Linked DNA regions of Homo sapiens: regions 2, 3, 4 and 5 are each linked to region 1. The links come from fine-mapping of genetic effects on gene expression. A gene starts in region 1. Each other region holds a variant in brackets. All regions are shown on one strand. Distances are between the middles of the regions.

Region 1 (4,928 bases):
GCAAGAGAATTTAGAGAACTTCGACAGAACAAGTTACCTTACCTCTTTTTCCCACAGCTTCCAGCTAGCTAGTTCTTCTCATCACCGGCGAGGCAATGAGCCTGAAAAGTTACTCCCATATAAATGGGCTGTCTATAATTTGGAATGTAGTTAAATTGGTTTTAAAATCAACTTACAAATTATTTTAAAATACATTAAATAGATGTTTTAAAATACATTTATTTCATGTCGTTTGTCCCCAGGGTTTGGAGTTTGATGTTCTGGACCAAGCGTAGGCTCTGAGCAAATGCTACCAGGGCTGGAGAATCAGTTCTGCCACTTCCTAGTTATGTGATCTTAGACAAATTTCCGCGCCTTAGTTTTCTTCTCAGAGAAATGAGACTAGTCCTATCCACACTATGGACAAGTGGTAGGAGGCGAAGGAGCTCACGTTTGTAAAGAGCCTTGCACGGTGCCTGAGACAAATTCAGTGCTTAGCAAATGTTAGCTCACCTCTCCCTTTTCTTCCTGTATCCGATTTTGTATACAAATGTGTAGAAAATTTACATGAAATAATGCAGAAAGATGAAAATCCATGTTTATTCTTCTTGCATTTGGTGGATGCTAGTTTACACTTCGGTGGAATGGTCAGGTTCTTCCCTCGATGTGCCTTGTGCAGACTGCCCCCTGGGTTGAAGTGGGGTGTTACTACGCAGATGGAAACAGCGGCAGAGGTATTTGCTAAATGTCCCATCAAGAAACGCATACAGGAGAGGGTTGATGCAGCAGTGGGTGGTGGCGATGAGTTTAGTGATGTGAACACTTTTGTCCAGATTGTAGCTGCTCTTGCAGTCACTCAGGGAGAAGTGTTCTTTGAAAGTGGACAGGAAAAATGCAATATTGTAGGGCGCCCACATCAGAAGGAAGACTACCATTATGGCAAAAACAAGCTTGAAAAGGCTATACCTCTGCTCCCTGAACCTTAGTGTTTTTCTCATTTGCACATAGAGAAATGTAAAAATAAATAGGGGGAGGACAAGAACCGAAATGTTCATTTTTAAAGTCAGAAAATGCTTCCAGAATGTCTCATCAGCTGGCAGGAAGGGAGTTCTGCTAAATGCACACTTGTATTTCTGGTCTTCCATCTGAGGTTTATAAACCACGAATTCAGGCAAAGTGGCCAGAATGGCTGTTACCCATGCCAGGACACTTGTAATGATGCCACAGGGCACCCTCCTCCTGGCTGAGAAAAAGTTTCCCTTGTGCAAAAACACTAGGTACCTTTGCACAGTCAGAAGGCAATTGAAAAATGTCTCACTGTACAGGCCCACGAAGTACAGTCCAATGAGAATTTTACACATGGGATCGCCCCCAGCATGAGCCCAGAAGGGCAGGGTAAGCAAGAAACACAAGTTAGAAACTGCCAAGTTTAGAAGATAGATATTTTCCACGCGTTTGAGTCCTTTATATTTTACCAGGATAAGCACAACCAGGAGATTGTCCAGGACACCGATCACAAACACAGCAGAGCAGAGTGATGGCACCAGCTGGGCTGAGAGTGCCTGGGCGTCATACTTGTCACATTGCTCTGCCTCATCGCTCTCCAGTTCACCTTCTATGAGGACATCATATTCATCCTCTGGTGCCAGCGTGTAATTGGCCATCTTCAGACTGCCCTGTGGAGAAATGGGAGATGATTTTCCCCTCCGACAGCTGCCTTATCCTGGAGGAAACAACAAACTGGACCTGGATTCATACAGCCCCACTTTCCCTTTCTGGAGCTACATTTTAGCCAGAGTAATTCCCTATTTCAGAAGACTGAAATAAACATTTCTTTAACGTGTGCCCACTTCCCCAGAGCAGCACCATTCCCAATCTAGTTGTTAAGCATGTAAGTGCTTAGCAGTGTGCCAGGTGCCACGGGAAATAAAGCTGGCATGACACCGCCTTGGTAGAACTTACCTTCTTTTAGCAGAAACAGGACTTGCCTACATGAACACAATATGTAAGAAAATATATAATTAAAGAGAACCAAGTACGATGGCTTACTTTTAAGAAACGGGTGTAGATCATAATTTCTGCATTTTAAAAAGTTTGCTCACCCCCCGAAGCAGCTTCCTGTGACAGCTGAGACGTTTTTCTCTCGAAGGGTATAAATAAATGTTTGCAAAAGTGAAACCATGCTCAGCATCAACATGGCCATAAGGGGTTAAATACATAGATGACACACAGATGACTTACCACTGGGCTGAGCTCCTGCAGGGGAAGGGCGCAGCCTCCAGACCCAGCATCCGGGAGCTGTGGGAATGGCCCCGGACAGTGGATGCCCTCCTTTTGATCAGACTGCTCCTGACCCTGAGGGGCACGAGAAACCACTGTTGATTCCCCTGGTGGCTCTACCCGCCCCACTCACCGAGCTCAGGGACCAACTGAAATAAAGTACTCAAAAGCTCCCCCAGGCCTCCAGAGGATCTCTGAAGCGTCTGAAAGCAACCGGGAAGTTGTTTCCTCCTCCCTCTGGCCCTGTACCCCGCCTTTGATTTCCCTGTGACCTTTGACAGCCGTCTTCTGGCCTTCTGAGATAAGGGAACTGTGTCACTGCCGCTCTGAGTGGTAGCAAGGAAGTGATGTCAAGGTGCTGAGAACTGCCAAGACGCTCTGGCTTGTGGCATGTGACACTCTGAGTAGGTAACAGGTACCAGCTACTGTCAGCAGGGAGGAAGGTATGTGGTGACCACGAGTCCAGACCTGAGGGTCCTGACCCTCTAATGCGGCCTCTCACCAGTGTTCGCAGAAACCCACCCGCTGATTCAATACGGGGACCAGGAACCTGCCATGACAGTCACGGTGTGTTTGGGTTTTTATTGTCATTTTTGAGGGGCACTGTGTGCTTTGGTTAAGACTGAGGCCTCAAAAGAGAATTTTAGGAAAATGGAAGCCACAGGGTGATGTCAGCTGGGAAAAGGCCAGGGGCAGAGGTGGGGTCTCAGCGGCAGTGAGCATAGGGCTGCCCTGGGTGTCAACACTGAGGAAAGCAAAGGGGTTTGCAAGCAGCCAGAAGTGATTGGTGCTGTGACTCATGGGGGAGCTGACCCCACTCGGAAAAGGAGAACCCAGAGGAGGAAAATCCCGTGGTGATGACACAGAGGCGACATCAAGTTGGGTGGGAGAGAATGTGAGGAGGACAAGTTTAACCCCAAACTGAGGCTGGGGGCTAGGGTAGGTTTGAGTCCAGAGAGAAGGAAATTGAGAGAACAGCCCAGATTTGGAATGGTGGGAGGAGGCTGTGGGGAGGGGAGGCTGTGGGAAGAGAGTGGGACGGGGAGGGCACGGTCTGGAAGAAGGACGAACCGAGAAGAGGAACTTGAAAATAATGAAAAAATCTAGATGAGCTTCTCTTGGGTCAACGACTCAGCAGCTGTGACTAACCTAATTTGGGGATCAGACCTATTTGCTTAGAATTTATATATTGATTAAATGACATCCTTTTCCCACCAAAGATGTGTCTGAGGTAGGATTGAATACAAAATTTGTACCTGTCAAAATAGAAATAGAAAATTAAGAAACTAGCCTGGCACTGAGGCGCATTCCTACAGCCCCAGCTACTCAGAAGTATGAGGTGGGAGGGTCGCTTGAGCCCAGGAGTTTGAGGCCAGCCTGGGCAACATAGTGAGATCCCGGATCTATAAACAATATAAAAATTAGCCAGATGCAGTGGCAAGTGCCTGTAATCCCAGACATTCCAGAGGCCAAGGTGGGATGTTCACGTGAGCCCAGGAGTTGGAGGCTGCGGTGAGCCATGATCATGCCACTCTGCACTCTGGCCTGGGTGGCAGAGCGAGACACTGTCTCTGGAAAAAAAAAAGAAGAAGGAGGAGGAGGGGCGGGGAGAGGAAGGGAGGAGAGAGAACTATTAAGAGAAAAATAAACACAGAAAGAGCCCAGACAAATATGTGATTGAGCATTAAATTTAACTCCACGTGTGCCGACAGACAAGGCAGAAAGAGAAACACAATGATGTTTGATGGCAGAGGAGTTGGTGCTGGTGGGAACCTAAGCTGTAAGTGCCCTCTCCTCTCTTGTGTGGGTCTCCTGTGAGTGAGTGAGTGGGGGTCATGGTGCCCTGGGACACTCTTCCCACCCCCTACAGCCTGGGATCAGCAGTGGCCCCTCCTCCTGGGTCTCTCCACCTCCTGCAGCTGGGCAGGACACTCAGGATCTTGAATGAGTAGGTGCGGGCAGCTTTACTCTCGATACTCATGGATCAGTTCCAGGAAAAGGAAGGAAAGTCAAGTCAGACTTTGAAACTTGCAAAACGCTGGGAGTACGCACACTCTTCCTCATTAGTAGAGGACAAAAACAGCAGTCAGGCACCTCATGTACCGCATGTCACAGAGTCATGTGAGATGTGAAATTTCCCAAGTAAAAACACAGAATCATGTGAGGTGTGAAATTTCCCAAAGAAAAATGTTTTGTAAATTCAGGATCACCCTGGCTTACTAATATTAGCATGACCTTCACTTTCAGTATTATTTTATTTTTGCCTGATTCCCAGCATTCTGCCTATCCACACTCAGGCCATGAGGTCCTTGAAACTTCTACATAGGAAGGAAGGAAGAGTTTAGAAGGCTGCAGTTGAGGCGAAAGGAAAGTTCTCTTTATTATTCTCATATCTGAAGCCATAATAGGGCCTCCTTGTTTGTGAAACGACATCACATTCTGCAGCCTTGGCAAGTGGTCCACAAAGCTTACCTCTGAAGGTCTGAGTTCCTCTTTATCACTATAATTTGACCCCAGTTTTAGTCGAAGGAACTATCACTGTATACTCTCATTCCCCACTACGTGTAGATCACTCATTTACTTAATTCAATTATTCAGCAAGTATTTCTAGAGTGCCTAGCCTGTGCCTAGCTCTGTTCCAGGTGCTGGGGATGCACCAATGGACAAAA
Region 2 (4,928 bases), 250 kb after region 1:
TTCACTGAGCTAAAGAAGCACGTTGTAACCCCATGTAAGGAAGCTAAAAATCATGGTAAAACAATACAGGAGCTGACAGCCAAGATAACCAGTATAGAGAGGAACATAACAAACCTGGTAGAGCTGAAAAACATACTACAAGAACTTCACAATGCAATCACAAGTATTAAAAGCAGATTAGGCCAAGCAGAGGAAAGAATCTCAGAGCCTGAAGACTGACTTTCTGAAATAAGACAGCCAGGCAAGAATAGAGAAAAAAAGAGTGAAAAGGAATGAACAAAATCTCCAATAAATATGGGATTATGTAAAAAGAGACCGAATCTATGGTTGATTGAGATACCTGAAAGAGACAGAGAGAATGAAACTAATTTGGGAAACATATTTCAGGATATCATCCAGGGGAATTTCCCCAACCTAGATAGACAGGCCAACATTCAAATTCAGGAAACGCAGAGAACTCCATCTCCACAAGAAGATTATCCCCAAGACACAATCATAAAATTCTCCAAGGTCAAAATGAAAAAAAAAAAAAAAAAAAAAAAAAATGTTAAGGGCAGCCAGAGAGAAATGCCAGATCACCTACAAAGGGAAGCCCATCAGACTAACAGCAAACCTCTCAGTGGAAACCCTGTAAGCCAGAAGAGATTGGAGGCCAATATTCAACATTCTTAAAGAAAAGAAATTCCAACCCAGAATTTCATATGTGGCCAAACTAAGCTTCATAAGCAAAAGAGAAATAAGATTCTTTTCAGACAAGCAAATGCTGAGAGAATTCATTACCACCAGACCTGCCTTAAAAGAGCTCCTGAAGGAAGCACTAAACATGGAAAGGAAAAATTGTTACCAGCCACTGCAAAAACACACTGAAATACACAGACAGGTGACACTAGGAAGCAACCACATAAACCAGTCTGCAAAATAACCAGCTAGCATTATGATGACAGGATCAAATTCACATTTAACAATATTATCTTTAACCTTAAATGTAAATGGGCTAAATGCCCCAATTAAAAGACACAGAGTGGCGAACTGGATAAGGAATTGGTATGCTGTCTTTAAGAGACCCATCTCACATGCAAAGACATACATAGGCTCAGAATAAAGGGATGGAGAAAAATTTACCAAGCAAATGGAAAACACAAAAAGCCAGGGCTGAAGTCTAGTTTTTGACAAATTGACTTTAAACTAACAAAGATTTAAAAAGACAAAGAAGGGTATTACATAATGGTAAAGGGTTCAATTCAACAAAAACAGCTAACTGTCCTAAATAGATATGTACCCAACACAGGAGCACTCAGATTCATAAAGCAAGTTCTTAGAGACCTTGAAAGAGACTTAGATTCCCACACAATAACTGTGGGACACTTTAACACCCCACTGACAATATTAGACAGATCATTGAGACAGAAAATTAACAAAAGATATTCAGTACCTGAACTCAGCTATGGATCAAATGGACGTGATAAATATCTACAGAACCCTCCACCAAAAAACAACAGAATATATTATTGTCTCATCTCCACATGGCACTTACTCTAAAATTGATCAAATAATCAGGAAGTAAAACACTCCTCAGCAAATGCAAAAGAACTGAAATAATAACAAATGAATCTCCTGTACCACAGTGCAATCAAATTAGAACTCAAGACTAAGAAATCTACTCAAAACCATGCAAGTACATGGAAATTGAACAACCTGCTCCTGAATGACTCTTGGGTAAAAAGTAAAATTAAAGCAGAAATCAAGAAGTTATTTGAAACTAATGAGAACAAAGATACAATATACTAGAATCTCTGGGACACAGCTAAGGCACTGTTAAGAGGGAAATTTATAACACTAAATACCCACATCAAAAATCTAGAAAGATCTCAAGTTAATAACCTAACATCACAACTAAAGGAACTAGAGAACCAAGAGAAAACAAACCCCAAATGTAGCAGAAGACAAGAAATAACCAAGATCAGAGCTGAACTGAAGGAGATAGAGACACAAAAAAACCTTCAAAAGATCAACAAATAAAGTAGCTGGCTTTTTGAAAAAATTAATAAAATAGACCACTACCTAGGCTAATAAAGAAGATAAAAGATTCAAATAAGCACAATCAGAAATGATAAAGGAGATATTACAACTGACCCCACAGAAATACAAATAACCATAAGAGACTACTAAGAACACCTATATGCCCACAAACTACAAAACTTAGAATAAATGAATAAATTCCTGAACACGTACACCCTCCCAAGACCAAACCAGGAAGAAATTGAATCCCTGAACAGACCAATAACGAGTTCTGAAATTGAAGCAGTAATAGTCTACCAACCAAAAAAGGCCCAGGACCAGAAGTATTCACAGCTGAATTATACCAGATGTAGAAAGAAGAGCTGGTACCATTCCTACTGAAATTATTCCAAAAAATCGAAAAGGAAGGACTCCTCCTTAACTTATTCTATAAGGCCAGCATCGTCCTGACACCAAAACCTAGCAGAGATACAACAAAAAAAGAAAACTTCAGGCCAATACACTTGACAATACCTCAACAAAACACTGGCAAGCCAAATCTAGCAGTACATCAAAAAACTTAACCACCATGATCAAGTAGGCTCCGTCCCTGAGATGCAAGGTTGGTTCAACATACACAAATCAATAAATGTGATTCATCACATAAACAGAACTAAAGACGGCCAGGCACAGTAGCTCATGCTTGTAATCCTAGCACTTTGGGAGGCCAAGGCAGGCAGATTGCCTGAGCTCAGGAGTTTAAGACCAGCCTGGGCAACATGGTGAAACCCCATCTCTACTAAAAATACAAAAAATTAGCCAGCAGTTGTGGCATATGCCTGTAGTCCCAGCTACTCAGGAGGCTGAGGCAGGAGAATTGCTTGAACCCAGGAGATGAAGGTTGCAGTGAGCGGAGATTGTGCCAC[T/G]GCACTCCAGCGTGGGTGACAGAGCGAGACTCCATCTCCAAAAAAAAGAATATACCTCAAAATGATAAGAACATACCATATATGACAGACCTACAGCCAATATCATACCAAATGGGCAAAAGCTAGAAGCATTCCTCTTGAAAAGCAGCACAAGAAAAAGATGCCCCCTCTCATCACTCCTATTGAATATAGTATGAGAAGTTCTGGCCAGAGCAATCAGGCAACAGAAGGAAATAAAGAGTATTCAGATAGGAAGAAAGGAAGTCAAATTATCTTTGTTTGCAGATGACATGATCCTGTAGCTAAGAAACCCCATTGTCTCATCCCAAAACCTCCTTAAGCCGATAAGCAACTTCAGCAATGTCTCAGGATATAAAAATCAATGTGCAAAAATTGCTAGCATCCCTATACATCAACAACAGGCAAAACACAGAGCCAAATCATGAATGAACTTCCATTCACAATTGCCACAAAAAGAATAAAATACCTAAGAATATAGCTAACAGGGGAAGTGAAGGATCTCTGCAAGGAAAACTACAAACCACTGCTCAAAGCAATCAGGGATGACACAAATGGAAAAACATTTCATGCTCATAGATAGGAAGAATCAATATTATAAAAATGGCCATACTGCCCAAAGCAATTTATAGATTCAATGCTATTCCCATTAAACTACCATTGACTTTCTTCACAGAATTCGAAAAAACTATCTTAAAATTCACATGGAACCCAAAAAGAGCCCAAATAGGCAAGGCAATCCTAAGCAAAAGGAACAAAGCTGGAGACACCATGCTACCCAGCTTCAAACTATACTAAAGGGCTACAGTAACCAAAACAGCATAGTACTGGTACAAGAACAGATACATAGATCAATGGAACAGAATAGAGAGCCCAGAAATAATACCACACACCTACAACCATCCGATCTTTGACAAACCTAACAAAAACAAGCAATGGGGAAAGGATTCCTTATTTAATAAATGGTGGGAGAACTGGCTAGCCATATACAGAAAATTGAGGCTGGACCCTTCTTTACACCATATACAAAAATCAACTCAAGATAGATTAAAGACCTAAATGCTTTTAAACTTAAATGTCTTTGACATAAAACCCAAAACTATAAAAGCCCTAGAAGAAAACCTACGCAATACCATTCAGGATATAGGCACAGGGAAGGATTTCATGACAAAAATGCCAAAAGCAATTACAGCAAAAGCAAAAATTTACAAATGGGATCTAATTAAACTAAAGAGCTTCTGCATAGCAAAAGAAACTATCAATAGAGTAAACAGACAATCTACAGAATGGGAGAAAACTTTTGCCATCTATGCATCTGACAAAGGTCCAATATACAGCATCTATAAGGAACTTAAACAAATTTACAAGAAAAGAACGAACAACCCCATTAAAAATGGGCAAAGGACATGAACAGACACTTCTCAAAAGAAGACATACATGCAGCCAACAAACATATGAAAAAAAGTTCAACATCACTGATTATTAGAGAAATGCAAATCAAAACCATAATGAGATACCATCTCATACCAGTCAGAATGGCTATTATTAAAAAGTCAAAAAACAACAGATGCTGCTGAGCCTGTGGAGAAAAAGGAATGCTTTTATACTGTTGGTGGGAGTGTAAATTAGCTCAGCCATTGTGGAAGACAGTGTGGTGATTTCTCAAAGACCTAGAGGCAGAAATACCATTCAACCCAGCAATCCCATTAGTGGGTATATACCCAGAGGAATATAAATCTTTCCCTATTATAAAGACACATGCATGCATATGTTCATTGTAGCACTAGTCACACTAGCAAAGACATGAAATCAACCTAAATGCCCATTAATGATAGACTGGATAAAGAAAATCTAGTACATGTATACCATGGAATACTATGCAGTTATAAAAGGGAATGAGATCATGTCCTTTGCAAGGAATGGATGGAGCTAGAGGCCCTTATCCTTAGCAAACTAATTCAGGAAGAGAAAACCAAATACCACACA
Region 3 (4,928 bases), 53 kb before region 1:
TTAGGTTGGAGTCCTAGATCCAACACTTACTTATTAGCTATGGGAACTTCCACAAGCCACATAACTAGTTAAAGCCATAGCTCCCTCCCCTGGAGAATGGAGAGGTTGGCAGAATTCACAATACAGAGGAGCTGTGGCAACTAATGGAGACACGTATGTCTCCATTAGCTGGTATTTGTTTGGTATTTGTTCTCTTTTAACACATCCACCATTCTTAGCTTCCTCTTTTTGGATTTTTGCCTCTCCAGTGAGAAGTGAAATCTGGTCCTGTCCGCTTACACATTCCTTGCGTGACACACAGTGCTGTTTGTACAGCAGGCATCCAGTTAATGCTCACTGGGTCACAAATGGCTGCATCTGATTGGGTTAATTCTCAGTGTGGGATAGTTCTATAAAGGCTTCCAAGGCAAGATTATATTCCCTGGGATTTCCCCGGGATGAGGGTGGATGAAGGGGGAGTATGGCAGCTAGGTGTCCCCAAACCTCTGCAGACTCAGCCAGGGAGCTACAGGCCTCTTGCCCACCCAAGGGCCATGGGTGGCTCTCGCCATAAGGGGATGGCTCAGAAACAGGAGACAGCAGAGGCTGAACATTCTACCCCATAGCACATCCAAAGGGCAGAGGGCTTTTACAACTGTGTGTTTATTTTGTTTTTTTGTTTGTTTGTTTTTTGTTTTAGTTTTTGGTAACAGCTTTACTGAGGTACATTTTCCATATCATAAAAAATCACCTATTTGCGTACAATTCAATGAGTTTCAGTAACCTTACCGAGTGTGCAACTATCACCATAAATCTGTTTTAGAACACTTTTATCCCCCCCAGTAAAGGTCCCTCATGCCTGTTTATAGTTAATCCTCATTTCTACCCCAGCATCAGACAACCACTAATCTATTTTCTTGTCTCCATAAATTTGCCTTTTCTGGACATTTCATTCAAATGGAATCATACAGCATGTGGTCTCTTGTGTCTGGCTTCCTTCACTGAGCATAACTGAGGCTCGTTCATGTTGTGGGGCATGCCAGTAGTTCTTTTCACTGCTGAGTAATATTCCATTGAATGGATGTACATTCACCAGTTATTGGACATTTAGGTTGTTTCCAGTTTTCTACTATTCTAAATAACACTGCTATGAATATTCATGCACAAGCATTTATGTATGATAGGTTCTTATAATATTTCTTCTGGCTATATGCCTAGAAGTGCAATTGTTGGGTCCTATTGGAACTCTGTGCTTCACATTTTGAGAAGCTGCCAACCTGTTTTACAAAGTGGCTGGTCATTTTACATTCTCAGCAATGTATGAGGGTTTCCACTTCTCCACATCCTCATCGATATGTGTCATTGTCTGTTTTAGCTATTATAACCTGTTCAGTGGCTGTGAAATGATATTTCGTTGCATTTTCAATTTGCATTTTTGACTAATGATATTGAGCACTTTTCATGTGCTTATTGTCCATTCATATATCTTCTTTGGTAAAATGTCTGTTCTTATCATTTACCCGTCATGTACTAAATCCTTTTTGATGTTATACTATCTAGCATTATGTTCTTAATTTCATTTTTAGATTGTTCTGTGCTGTATGCAAAAATATGATCAATTTTTGTATATTGATCTTGTATCCTGTGGCCTGGCTGTACTTGTTTATTAATTCTAATAGTACTTTGTAGATTCTTCAGTATTTTCTACATAGAAGATCATGTTATCTGAAAGTAAAGTCAGTTTTACTTCTTTCTTTCCAATATGGGTGTCTCATTTCTTTTCTTGCCTTATTGCTGTGACTAGAATCTCTAGTACTGTTGAATAGAAGAGTTGAGTGTGGACACTCTCTCATCATTCCTGATCTTAGGTGGAAAGCAGTCAGTCTTTCACCATTTTAGTATGATGTTCATTGCAGGTTTTTTGTGGATGCCTTTTATCAGGCAACCAGGTGAGTAAATTCAATGCATCTTCCTCCCTAATTACATGGATTTGAGCAACAAAAGCAGGCTCAAAAGAAGAACCAGTATTTGAGCAAAAAAAGCAGGCTCAACAGGAGCACCAGTCTTTCTGTGCAGAGTGAATGGTGGTAGCTCAGGCACACCAACCAACTGATTTGTCCCCATTGACACTGACTTACCATTTACCTCAGCTACCAACCGACTCAGGTATATTTTCCCCTGTTCTCTTGGCATTCCCTGGGAAGAGATTTATGCACAAAACAATCTAGAGAGACGTGGATTCTCAGCTGGGCTCTGCACTGCTGAGTGGCGAGTCACTCAGCCTCCTTAGGAGCCAATTTCCACATCAGTAAAACAGGAGCAATGACTCCTTTCCTGCCTACCTTCCAGGTTCAAAGTGGGCAAAGCTGGTAGAAGAATTCCATAACTGATCTGGGGGATCACCATCATTTTTTAAGTGGTAGGAAACATGTCAAAGTCATAGGAATGAAAATAATCTAGAGGGACTTTCTCCTTTAATTTATTGAGAACCACAGACCTCTAGCCAATGCAGAGATCCTATTAGTCCAGCAAGATGCCTCCACTTGTGGAGAATGGCTGGACATAGCCATGAAATGGAGAGGGAAGGAGGGCAGCCGAGAGAGAGGGAGGAGTCTGGAAAACTCCATCAGAGGGTGCGGTGGTCACGCCCTCAGTCAGTGGTTGAATCCTTACTCCTTGGCCCCTCTCTCCCAGGACTGTGTCTGGCTGGCCGTAGGAGGAGTGTTCAGTGGTGCGCCGTATCCCAACCCGAGGCCACAAAATGCTTCCAATGGCAAAGGAATATGAGAA[A/G]AGTGCGTGGCCCTCCTGTCAGCTGCATAAAGAGAGACTCCCCCATCCAGTGTATCCAGGCCATTGCGGTGAGTCAATGCCGGGTGTTGGTTGGGACCAAGCTGAATGGAAGGGAGAGAGAAATGGAAAAAGATAGAACACGAGCTCTCCTTACTTCCTCTGCTTCACCTGTTGGGCAACGAAGTGGGGAGCCGTCCTCTCTCACAGGGAACTGTGCTATTTTCAGAGCAGAAAGGAAGGAGCTTAAGTCAAGAGACCATGTGTGAGGAACCTGGAGCCTCCACATAAACTATAATAACAACTGTTATTCATTAATAACAACTGTTCCAAAATGAAATGTAATCAGTTGTATTTGATGAATACATAGGATCAGCAAAAAGCAAAGTTACTCAGAGAGGGAAATCCTCCAAAAGAGTCATGACCTCTAAACCCTGTGAGAAAGAAGCTTGTCCTGGTCACCGTTGCCACATCACATGGCTGGGGCAGGGCCTGCCAGGGTGCTGGGTGTTAGAAAGACTTTTGTCCAAGACACTTTCAGAGAGAGAGAAAAGGGTATCATGACTTGTATATGATTTCTGATTCCTTTTATTTTTTGAGATGTAAGATCTACTGAAATGATTTTTACTCATTCATTCAACAAATATATTCTGTGTACCTGCCATGTGCCATAATCATGTGTACTCAACTCCAGCAGAGTGAATAATTTGCATAAAAGTTCCCGAGGCAACTTCATAGGATTATCTTATAAATACAATGGAGTTATTAGAATAGCACTTAGGGAAAAATCTAGTTTAATCAATGTTTTAGGCTATTATTTTACAACTATTACCTGCATACAAACAGTACCAGTGGCTGGGCGCGGTGGCTCACGCCCGTAATTTCAGCACTTTGGAGGCCGAGGTGGGAGGATCACCTGAGGTCAGTAGTTCAAAACCAGGATGGCCAACATGGTGAAACCCTGCCTCTACTAAAAATACAAAAATTAGCTGGGTGTGGTGGCACATGCCTGTATTCCCAGCTACTTACAAGGCTGAGGCAGGAGAATCACTTGAACCCGGGAGGGGGAGGTTGCAGTGAGCCAAGATCATGCTATTGCACTCCAGCCTGGGCGACAAGAGCGAGACTCCATCTCAAAAAACAAAAAACAAAAACAAAAAACCAGCACCAGCATCTCTTGCTTGTTTAAAATGCAGATTCCTAGGCTCTATTCTAACCTACTCAATCTGAATATATGTGAAAGAAGCCACAAAATCTGCCTTTTAAAATAAGATCCTGTCCAAGGCCATACCACGCTGAACGCGTCTGATCTCGTCTGATCTCGGAAAATAAGATCCCTGTTTGAAATCAGTACTACATACCATTCATTCAAATAAAGTTGAGATAGATTAAATGGTTAAAAATAAAACTTGTATTATTGAAAAACTAGGGGGCAGGTTAACTAGCAGAACTGTAGAGGAAATAGAAATCTCTTAAATGATGATCTAAATCACGAAACAAACAGATATTCTAAAATACAGAAAATGTAATTCATAGCCCATAGAAAATATTTAAATAAAAAAATTAGAAAGGACTGGAATGAATGAATATGCGCCAGCTCTGACACATGATTACTATTTACACTCTATAAAAGAATAACTCAAGGCCGGGCGTGGTGGCTCACATCTGTAATCCCAGCACTTTGGGAGGTCAAGGCAGGTGGATCACGAGGTCAGGAGATCAAGACCATCCTGGCTAAGATGGTGAAACCCCATCTCTACTAAACATACAAAAAAAAAAAAATTAGCCAGGCATGGTGGCACACGCCTGTAGTCCCAGCTACTCAGGAGGCTGAGGCAAGAGAATCGCTTTAACCCGGGAGGTGGAGGTTGCAGTGAGCTGAGATGGTACCACTGCACTCCAGCCTGGGTGACTCCGCTCGAAAAAATAAATAAATAAAAGAATAACCCAAATTGGAAAAAATGTAGAATCATAGAAGAAAAATGATATGAACAGAGTTACCAGTAAGAGGGAATTCATAATTAATAAAAAATACTTGTGAGATGTTCCCCTTACTAATCAGACCTGAGCGATTTGTTAGTACTCACATTTTCTATAGTAATAACAGCTAATAGAATGATAGCCTGCCCTGCTGGTGATTCAAGAGTGAAGCTGGTCCTCAC
Region 4 (4,928 bases), 160 kb after region 1:
ACAGCCCCACCCTTATCTCCCTTTGCTGACTCTCTTTTCGGACTCAGCCCGCCTGCACTCAGGTGAAATAAACAGCCATGTTGCTCACACAAAGCCTGTTTGGTGGTCTCTTCACAAGGATGCACATGAAATTTGGTGCCGTGACTCGGATTGTGGGACCTCCCTTGGGAGATCAATCCCCTGTCCTCCTGTTCTTTGCTCCGTGAGAAAGATCCACCTACGACCTCAGGTCCTCAGACCGACCAGCCCAAGAAACATCTCACCAACTTCAAATCCAGTAAGCGGCCTCTTTTTACTCTCTTCTCCAACCTCCCTCACTATCCCTCAACCTCTTTCTCCTTTCAATCTTGGCGCCACACTTCAATCTCTCCCTTCTCTTAATTTCAATTCCTTTCATTTTCTGGTAGAGACAAAGGAGACACCTTTTATCCATGGACCCAAAACTCCGGCGCCGGTCACAGACTGGGAAGGCAGCCTTCCCTTGGTGTTTAATCATTGCAGGGACGCCTCTCTGATTATTCACCCACGTTTCAAGGGTGTCAGACCACGCAGGGACGCCTGCCTTGGTCCTTCACCCTTAGCAGCAAGTCCCACTTTTCTGGGAAAGGGGCAAGTACCTCAACCCCTTCTCTCCATGTCTCTACCCCTTCTCTGCTTTTCTGGGGGAGGGGCAAGTACCCCTCAACCCCTTCTCCTTCACTCTTAGTGGCAAGTCCCACTTTTCTAGGGGGCAAGAACCCCCAATCCCTTATTTCTGCACCCCAACCTCTTATCTCTGCACCCCAATCCCTTATTTCCTCACCCTGACCTCTTATCTCTGTGCCCCAATCCCTTATTTCCGCACCCAGACCTCTTATCTCTGTGCCCCAATCCCTTATTTCCATGCCCCAACCCCCCTTCCCGCTTTTCTGGAGGGTAAGAACCCCTGAACCCCTTCCCTCCATGTCTCTACTCTCTCTTTTCTCTGGGTTTGCCTCCTTCACTATAGGCAAAATTCCACCCTCCATTCCTCCTTCTTCTCCTTTAGCCTGTGTCCTCAAGAACTTAAAACCTCAACTTACACCTGTCCTAAAACCTAAACGCCTTATTTTCTTCTGCAACACTGCTTGGCTCCAATACAAACTTGACAATGGCTCTAAATGGCCAGAAAATGGCACTTTCGATTTCTCCATCCTACAAGATCTAAATAATTCTTGTCTTAAAATAGGCAAATGGTCTGAGGTGCCTGATGTCCAGGCATTCTTTTACACATCAGTCCCTTCCTAGTCTCTGTGCCCAGTGCAACTTGTCCCAAATCTTCCTTGTTTCCCTCCCGCCTGTCCCCTCAGTCCCAACCCCAAGCATCGCTGAGTCTTTCTAATCTTCCTTTTCTACAGACCCATCTGACCTCTCCCCTCCTTGCCAGGCCAAGCTAGGTCCCAATTCTTCCTCAGCCTCCACTCCTCCACCCTGTAATCTTTTTATCGCCTCACCTCCTCACACCTGGTCCGGCTTACAGTTTCGTTCCATCACTAGCCCTTCCCCACCTGCCCAGCAATTTACTCTTAAAAAGGTGCCTGGAGCCAAAGGCATAGTCAAGGTTAATGCTCCTTTTTCTTTATCCCAAATCAGAAGCGTTTAGGCTCTTTTTCATCAAATATAAAAACCCAGCCCAGTTCATGGCTCATTCGGCAGCAACCCTGAGACGCTTTACAGCCCTAGACCCTAAAAGGTCAAAAGGCCATCTTATTCTCAATATACATTTTATTACCCAATCTGCTCCCGACATTAAATAAAACTCCAAAAATTAGAATCTGGCCCTCACACCCCACAACAGGACTTAATTAACCTCACCTTCAAGGTGTACAATGATAAAAAAAAAAAGTTGCAATTCCCTGCCTCCACTGTGAGACAAACCCCAGCCACATCCCCAGCACACAAGAACTTCCAAACACCTGAACCGCAGTGGCCAGGCGTTCCTCCAGAACCTCCTCCCCGAGGAGCTTGCTACAAGTGCCAGAAATCTGACCACCAGGCCAAGGAATGCCTGCAGCCCAGGATTCCCCCATCTGTGTGGGACCCCACTGGAAATCAGACTGTTCAACTCACCTGGCAGCCACTCCCAGAGCCCCTGGAACTCTGGCCCAAGGCTCTCTGACTGACTCCTTCTTGGCTTAGCGGCTGAAGACTGACACAGCCTGATCGCCTCGGAAGCCCCATAGACCATCACAGATGCCGAGCTTTAGGTAACTCTCACAGTGGAGGGTAAGTCCATCCCCTTCTTAATCAATACAGAGGCTACCCACTCCACATTACCTTCTTTTCAAGAGCCTGTTTCCCTTGCCTCCATAACTGTTGTGGGTATTGATGCCCAGGCTTCTAAACCTCTTAAAACTCCCCAACTCTGGTGCCAACTTAGACAATACTCTTTTATGCACTCTTTTTTAGTTATCCCCACCTGCCCAGTTCCCTTATTAGGCC[G/A]AGATATTTTAACCAAATTATCTGCTTCCCTGACTATTCCTGGACTATAGCCGCATCTCATTGCTGCCCTTCTTCCCAATCCAAAGCCTCCTTTGCGTCCTCTTCTTGTATTCCCCCACCTTAACCCACAAGTATAAGATACCTCTACTCCCTCCTTGGCGACCAATCATGCTCCCCTTACCATCTCGTTAAAACCTAATCACCCTTACCCTGCTCAATGCCAAGATCCCATCCCACAGCACGCTTTAAAAGGATTAAAGCCTGTTATCACTCGCCTGCTAAGGCATGGCCTTTTAAAGCCTATAAACTCTCCTTACCATTCCCCCATTTTACCTGTCCTAAAACCAGACAAGCCTTACAAGTTAGTTCAGAATCTGCACCTTATCAACCAAATTGTTTTGCCTATCCACCCCGTGGGGCCAAACCCATATAACCTCCTATCCTCAATACCTCCCTCTACTACCCATTATTCTGTTCTGGATCTCAAACATGCTTTCTTTACTATTCCTTTGCACCCTTCATCCCAGCCTCTCTTTGCTTTCACTTAGACTGACCCTGACACCCATTAGGCTCAGCAAATTACCTGGGCTGTACTGCCACAAGGTTTCACAGACAGCCCCCATTACTTCAGTCAAGCCCAAATTTCATCGTCATCTGTTACCTATCTCGGCATAATTCTCATAAAAACACACGTGCTCTCCCTGCTGATCCTGTCCGATTAATCTCCCAAACCTCAATCCCTTACAAAACAACAACTCCTTTCCTTCCTAGGCATGGTTAGTGCAGTCAGAATTCTTACACAAGAGCCAGGACTGCACCCTGTAGCCTTTCTGTCCAAACAACTTGATCTTACTGTTTTAGCCTAGCCCTCATGTCTGCATGCAGCAGCTGCCACTGCTTTAATACTTTTAGAGGCCCTAAAAATCACAAACTATGCTCAACTCACTCTCTACATTTCTCATAACTTCCAAAATCTATTTTCTTCCTCATACCTGATGCATATACTTTCTGCTCCTTGGCTCCTTCAGCTGTACTCACTCTTTGTTAAGTCTCCCACAATTACCATCATTCCTGGCCCGGACTTCAGTCCAGCCTCCCACATTATTCCAGAAACCACACCTGACCCTCATGACTGTATCTCTCTGATCCACCTGACATTCACCCCATTTCCCCATATCTCCTTCTTTCCTGTTCCTCACCCTGATCATGCTTGATTTATTGATGGCAGTTCCACCAGGCCTAATCACCACACACCAGCAAAGGCAGGCTATGCTATAGTACAAGCCACTAGCCTGCCTCTTAGAACCTCTCATTTCCTTTCCATTGTAGAAATCTATCCTCAAGGAAATCACTTCTCAGTGTTCCATCTGCTATTCTATGTGCTATTCTACTACTCCTCAAGGATTATTCAGGCCCCCTCCCTTCCCTACACATCAAGCTCGAGGATTTGCCCCTGCCCAGGACTGGCAAATTAGCTTTACTCAACATGCCCTGAGTCACAAAAACTAAAATACCTCTTAGTCTAAGTAGACACTTTCACTAGATAGGTAGAGGCCTTTCCTACAGGGTCTGAGAAGGGCACCGCAGTCATTTCTTCCCTTCTGTCAGACATAATTCCTCAGTTTAGCCTTCCCACCTCTATACAGTCTGATAACAGACCAGCCTTTATTAGTCAAATCAGCCAAGCAGTTTTTCAGGCTCTTAGTATTCAGTGAAACCTTTATATCCCTTATAGTCCTCTGTCTTCAAGAAAAGTAGAACGGACTAAAGGTCTTTTAAAAACACACCTCACCAAGCTCAGCCACCAACTTAAAAAGAACTGGACAATACTTTCACCACTTTCCCTTCTCAGAAGTCAGACCTGTCCTCGGAATGCTATAAGGTACAGCCCATTTAAGTTCCTGTATAGATGCTCCTTTTCATTAGGCCCCCAGTCTCATTCCAGACACCGGACCACCTTAGACTGTGCCCCAAAAAAACTTGTCATCCCTACTATTTTCTATCTAGTCATACTCCTGTTCTCTGTTCTCAACTACTCATACATGCCCTGCTCTTGTTTACACTGCCAGTTTACACTGTTTTTTCAAGCCATCACAGCTGATATCTCCTCGTGCTATCCCCAAACCGCCGCTCTTAACTCTTGAAGTAAATAAATAATCTTTGCTGGCAGGACTATGCTGAATCTCCTTAGGCACTCTCTAATCAGATGTCCTAGGTCCTCCCGATTCTTAGACCTTTTATACCTGTTTTTCTCCTTCTCTTATTCCATTTAGTTTTTCAATTCATACAAAACCATATCCAGGCCATCACCAATCATTCTATACGACAAATGTTTCTTCTAACATCCCCACAATATCACCCCTTACCACAAGACCTCCCTTCAGCTTAATCTCTCCCACTCTAGGTTCCCACGCCGCCCCTAATCCCGCTTGAAGCAGCCCTGGGAAACATCGCCCATTCTCTCTCCA
Region 5 (4,928 bases), 75 kb after region 1:
TCTATAGATCATAGATTAACTGAAAGCATTCCTTATGGGAAACAAAGGGATGGGCCAAAACAAAGGGATGGGCTCTGGCTAGCTGTCTGCAGCAGGAACATGTCCTTAAGGCACAGATTGCTCATGCTATCATTAGTGGTTTGGGAATGCCTTTAAGGAATTTTCTGCCCTGGGTGGGCCAGGTGTTCCTTGCCCTCATTCCAGTAAACCAACAACCTTCAAGGTGGGCATCATGGCCATCACAAACATGTCATGGTGCTGCAGAGATTTTGTTTATGGCCTGTTTTGGGGCCAGTTTATGGCCAGATTTGGGGGCCTGTTCCCAACAGGGCACAACATTTTTACCTTCTAATTTAACAAATATCATTTAATTAGGTTTAAATTTCTTCTTTAAAGCGTAATGTGTGGTTTTACATGCCTAGCTTTTAATTACTCTTCAACTAATTCATGGGCCCTCTGTAATCTCTTTCCCTTCAAAGGTTACTGTTTTACTTAAATTGAATTTGGAAAGCTACATCAGGGATAGGAGAGAGATGACAATAGTGGCCATTATTAGAAAAGATGCTTTTCAAATTCTTACATTTTACTTACATCTTAGCAGAGAATCATAGCCTGAGATGTAACACATGAAATTTTGCAATGGGCTGCCCACAGAGCCAGAGGGCAGTGGTGCAGGTCCTGGGAGGTGGCCACATTGTACTTGTTTAGGCTTTGCCTGTGTCTGTGCTGCTCCCTTGCTCCTTTGCCAGAGGGATGCTGCCGTCCTGGGCAGACCTTGTTGGCTTTGTCGCTGTGAGCTTTTCTGCCTCTGAGCATTTTCTCCTGCCCACTGCCTGCTTGGCCACGTGGTTTTGGCTTCTAATGCCTTTTTCTTATCTTTTTATAAACATACACCTGATTGCCTTGCCGATTTTGCATTACTGAGCAGGTTAAGAGCTCTCCTTCTTCTTCTTTTTTTAGATGGAGTCTTGCTCTGTTGCCCAGGCTGTAGTGCAGTGGTGCAATCTCAGGTCACTGAAAGCTCCAAGCTCCACCTCCTGGGTTCATGCCATTCTCCTGCCTCAGCCTCCCAAGTAGCTGGGGCTACAGGTGCCCACCAACATGCCTGGCTAATTTTTTGTATTTTTAGTGGAGACGGGGTTTCACCATGTTAGCTAGGATGGTCTGGATCTCCTGACCTCATGATCTGCCTGCCTCGGCCTCCCAAAGTGCTGGGATTATAGGCATGAGCCACTGCACCCGGCTAAGAGCTCTCCTTCTAATGCTGCCTGCTTAAGACAGGGACTGATAGCTGTAGCGTATCCTCTGTCCTTCTTCCTATCTATTGGAGGAGGAAGCTTAGGTAAGACCTCCATTTCCTCTTTGTTATTTTGGCCCAGTGATATTGGCACTGAGGGAAGGGGAGGTGATAAGGCAGGTGACATTTCCTCCTCCTTTCCCTTTTTAGGCTCTTTTGTGTGTAACAACCAGGGCTGCTCTACTCAAAGCCCCTAACATAAAAGATTTTACTGGGACCTGATGCCTTTGTGCCTGGTGTTGTTTAAGATTTCTCCCCACTTGCTCCCAAAGTTCTATGTCTAGCATTCCTTCCTCCAGGAACCATTGGCTTTGTACTCCATTATTGACCACACTAGTTTTTAATTCCTTCAACAACTTAAATTCTAGTGGAGAGTGTTCATGAATAAACTGCTGTGGATTATTTGGATCAGGCCTTACAGAAATAGGAAAAGCACAAGGTCCTAAGGGCTCTCCAGCTATGACAGCAGAGCATAAAATTCTTTGTACTGGGATCTCTATTTCTGCCACTGAAGGAGATGGTACAGATGTTTCTGCATCTGGAGGAGGCGGTATAGGCCAATTTTTATCCTCCCTCTCCTGTTTTTTATATTCAATTGGAGCTGTGAGTAGGACAACAAATTCTTTCCAATTTTTAGATTCAGCCTGCTGTTCCGCAGAATAATAAGGAGATAATGGCAGAAGTACAGTATGAACTAAACTCCAAGTGGAGAAAACTGAAGAATCAACTTTAAGACCTTTTTGATGAGCTTGTTTTAATCCTGCTCTATCCCAATTTTCCACATCAAGAGTGCCTGCCTGTGGAAACCATGGTTTATGTGTAATAACCTTTTGTGGCTTCTGCAGGAGGTTAGTGTCAGGCCTCTGAGCCCAAGCTAAGCCATCATATATCCCCGTAACCTTCACGTGTACATCCAGATGGCCTGAAG[A/C]AACTGAAGAACCACAAAAGAAGTGAAATAGTGAGTTCCTGCCTTAACTGATGACATTCCACCATGCGATTTGTTCCTGCCCCACCCCAACTGATCAATCGACCTTGTGACACTCCTTCCCTGGATGATAAGTCTCAGGATTTCCCCACCCAGCACCTTGTGACCCCCACCTCTGCCCTCAAGAGATAACCACCTCTAACTGTAACTTTCCACTACCTACCCAAATCTTATAAAACTGACCCACCCCTATCTCTCTTTGCTGACTCCTTTTTCAGACTCAGCCCACCTGCACCAAGGTGATTAAAAAGCTTTATTGATAACACAAAGCCTGTTGGTGGACTCTCTTCACATGGATGCACATGACATTTGGTGCTGAAGATCCAGGACTCGGGAACTCCTTCTGGAGACCAGTCCCCTGTCCTCACCCTCATTCCGTGAGGAGATCCACCTACAACCTTGGGTCCTCAGATCAGCCCAAGGAACATCTCACCAATTTTAAATTGAGTAAGTGGCCTCTTTTTATTCTCTTTTCCAACTCTCTTGCTATCTCTCCACCCTTCAATCTCTCCCTTCCTTAATTTCAGTTCCTTTCCCTTTCTGGTAGAGACAGAGGAGATGTGTTTTATCTGTGAACTCAAAACTCCAGCACCGGTCACGGACTCGGGAAGACAGTCTCCCCTTGGTGTCTAATCACTGCAGGGACACCTGCCTGATTATTCACCCACATTTCAGAGGTGTCTGATCACCGTGGGGATGACTGCCTTGATCCATCACCTTGGTGGCAAGTACCACCTCCCCTGGCTGATGAGTACCACCACCCCCTCTCTCTGTGTCTCTATCCTCTCTTTTCTCTAAACTTACCTTTTTATTATGGGCAGCCTTCCACCCTCCATTCCTCCTTCTTCTGCCTTAGCCTGTGTTCTAAAAAACCTAAAACCTCTTCAACTCTCACCTGACCTAAAACCTAAGCATCTTATTTTCTTCTGCAACACCATTTGGCCCCAATACAAACTCGATAATTGTTCCAAATGGCCAGAAAATGGCACTTTTGATTTCTCCACCCTACAAGACTTAGATAATTTTTGTCATAAAATGGGCAAATGGTCTGAGGTGCCTGATGTCCAGGCATTCTTTACACATCACTCCCTTCCTAGTCTCTGCTCCCAATGCGACTTGTCCCAAATCTTTCTTCTTTCTCTCCTGTCTGTTCCTTCAGTCTCCTCACCAAGCTCCGAGTCCTTTGAATCCTTCTTTTCTACGAACCCATCTAACCTCTCTCCTCCTCCCCAGGCTGCTCCTCACCAGGCCACTCCTCACCAGGCTGAGCCAGGTCCCAATTCTTCCTCAGCCTCTACTCCCCTACGCTGTAATCCTTCTATCACCTCCCCTCCTCACACCCAGTCCAGCTTATGGTTTCATTCCACGACTAGCACTCCTCCACTTGCCCAACAATTTCCTCTTAGAGAGGTGGCAAGAGCTGAAGGCATAGTCAAGATTAATGTTCCTTTTACTTTATCTGACCTCTCCCAAATTAGTTAGCATTTAGGCTCTTTTTTTTTCATCAAATATGAAAACGCAGCCCAGTCCATGGTCCCTTTGGCAACAACTCTTAGACATTTTACTGCCCTAGGTTCAGAGGGGCCAGAAGGCTGTCTTACTCTCAATATGCATTTTATTACCCAATCCACTCCCAACATTAAAAAAGCTTCAAAAATTAGATTATGGCCCTCAAACCCCACAACAGGACTTAATTAACCTCACCTTCAAGGTGTACAATAATAGAGAAGAGACAGCCAAGTGGCAATGTATTTCTGAGTTGCAATTACTTGCCTCTGCTGTGAGAAAAACCTCAGCCACATCTCCAGCACACAAGAACTTCAAAACACCTAAACCACTGTGGTCAGGCATTCCTCCAGGATCTTGCTTCAAGTGCTAGAAATCTGGCCACTGGGCCAAGGAATGCCTACAGCCCAGGATTCCTCCTAAACTGTATCCCATCTGTGTGGGACCGCATTGGAAATCGGACTGTCCAACTTGCCCGTCAGCCACTCCCAGAGCCCCTGGAACTCTGGCCCAGGGCTCTCTGACTGACTCCTTCCCAGATCTTCTCAGCTTAGCAGCTGAAGACTGACACTGCCTGATCACCTCAGAAGCCTCCTGGATCATCACAGACACTTTGGGTAACTCTTACAGTGGAGGGTAAGTCTGTCCCTTTCTTAATCAATATGGAGGCTACCCACTCCATATTACTTTCCTTTCAAGGGCCTGTTTCCCTTGCCTCCATAACTGTTGTGGTTATTGATGGTCAGGCTGCTAAACCTCTTAAAACTCCCCAACTCTGGTGCCAACTTGGACAACATTCTTTTATGCACTCCTTTTTAGTTATTCCCACCTGCCCAGCTCCCTTATTAAATTGAGACATTTTAACTAAATTATCTGCTTCCCTGACTATTCCTGGGCTACAGCCACACCTCATTGCCACCCTTTTCCCCAGTTCAAAGCCTCCTTCACAACCTCCCCTCCTGACTCCCTATCTTAACCCACAAGTATGGGATACCTCTACTCCCTCCTTGGTGACCGATCACGCAACCCTACCATCCCATTAAAACCTAATTACCCTTATCCTGCTCAATGCCAGTATCCCATCCCACAACAGGCTTTGAAGGGACTAAAGCCTGTCCAGGATCTTCAGCTTATCAACCA

Alleles and levels. Positions count from the first base shown, and alleles are read on the strand shown. Sizes are in standard deviations (SD) of each study's normalised expression. Not every link is listed here.
In carriers of allele A in region 4, the expression in monocytes after Pam3CSK4 of the gene that starts at base 2,657 in region 1 tends to be lower than with G alone (moderate effect, 0.56 SD a copy in Quach 2016).

What was found. PIP is the estimated chance that this variant, and not a neighbour inherited with it, causes the effect.
Region 2: its variant is the best candidate, but not a certain one, in a credible set for the expression of CCR5AS in whole blood (INTERVAL, PIP 0.84).
Region 3: its variant is the best candidate, but not a certain one, in a credible set for the expression of CCR5AS in blood mononuclear cells (TOPMed, PIP 0.51).
Region 4: its variant is the best candidate, but not a certain one, in a credible set for the expression of CCR5AS in monocytes after Pam3CSK4 (Quach 2016, PIP 0.69).
Region 5: its variant is the best candidate, but not a certain one, in a credible set for the expression of CCR5AS in whole blood (INTERVAL, PIP 0.53).

The regions. Positions count from the first base shown.
Region 1 is chr3:46,404,795-46,409,722 of GRCh38, reverse strand. CCR5AS (CCR5 antisense RNA) reads left to right here and starts at 2,657. Exons shown (of 4, transcript NR_125406.2): 1 at 2,657-2,826. CCRL2 (C-C motif chemokine receptor like 2) reads right to left here and starts at 2,464. Exons shown (of 2, transcript NM_003965.5): 1 at 2,221-2,464; 2 at 200-1,655. The coding sequence starts at 1,643. The coding sequence ends at 609.
Region 2 is chr3:46,157,328-46,162,255 of GRCh38, reverse strand. No RefSeq gene overlaps it. Among named protein-coding and RNA genes, the nearest start is that of CCR1, 49 kb to the left of the region's middle. The variant T/G (reference allele first, on the strand shown) is at 2,925.
Region 3 is chr3:46,457,565-46,462,492 of GRCh38, reverse strand. LTF (lactotransferrin) reads left to right here. Exons shown (of 17, transcript NM_002343.6): 2 at 2,674-2,837. Among named protein-coding and RNA genes, the nearest start is that of LTF, 4.9 kb to the left of the region's middle. The variant A/G (reference allele first, on the strand shown) is at 2,770.
Region 4 is chr3:46,246,809-46,251,736 of GRCh38, reverse strand. All of the region lies in intron 1 of CCR3 (C-C motif chemokine receptor 3), which reads right to left. Among named protein-coding and RNA genes, the nearest start is that of CCR3, 6.8 kb to the right of the region's middle. The variant G/A (reference allele first, on the strand shown) is at 2,461.
Region 5 is chr3:46,330,080-46,335,007 of GRCh38, reverse strand. No RefSeq gene overlaps it. Among named protein-coding and RNA genes, the nearest start is that of CCR2, 22 kb to the left of the region's middle. The variant A/C (reference allele first, on the strand shown) is at 2,226.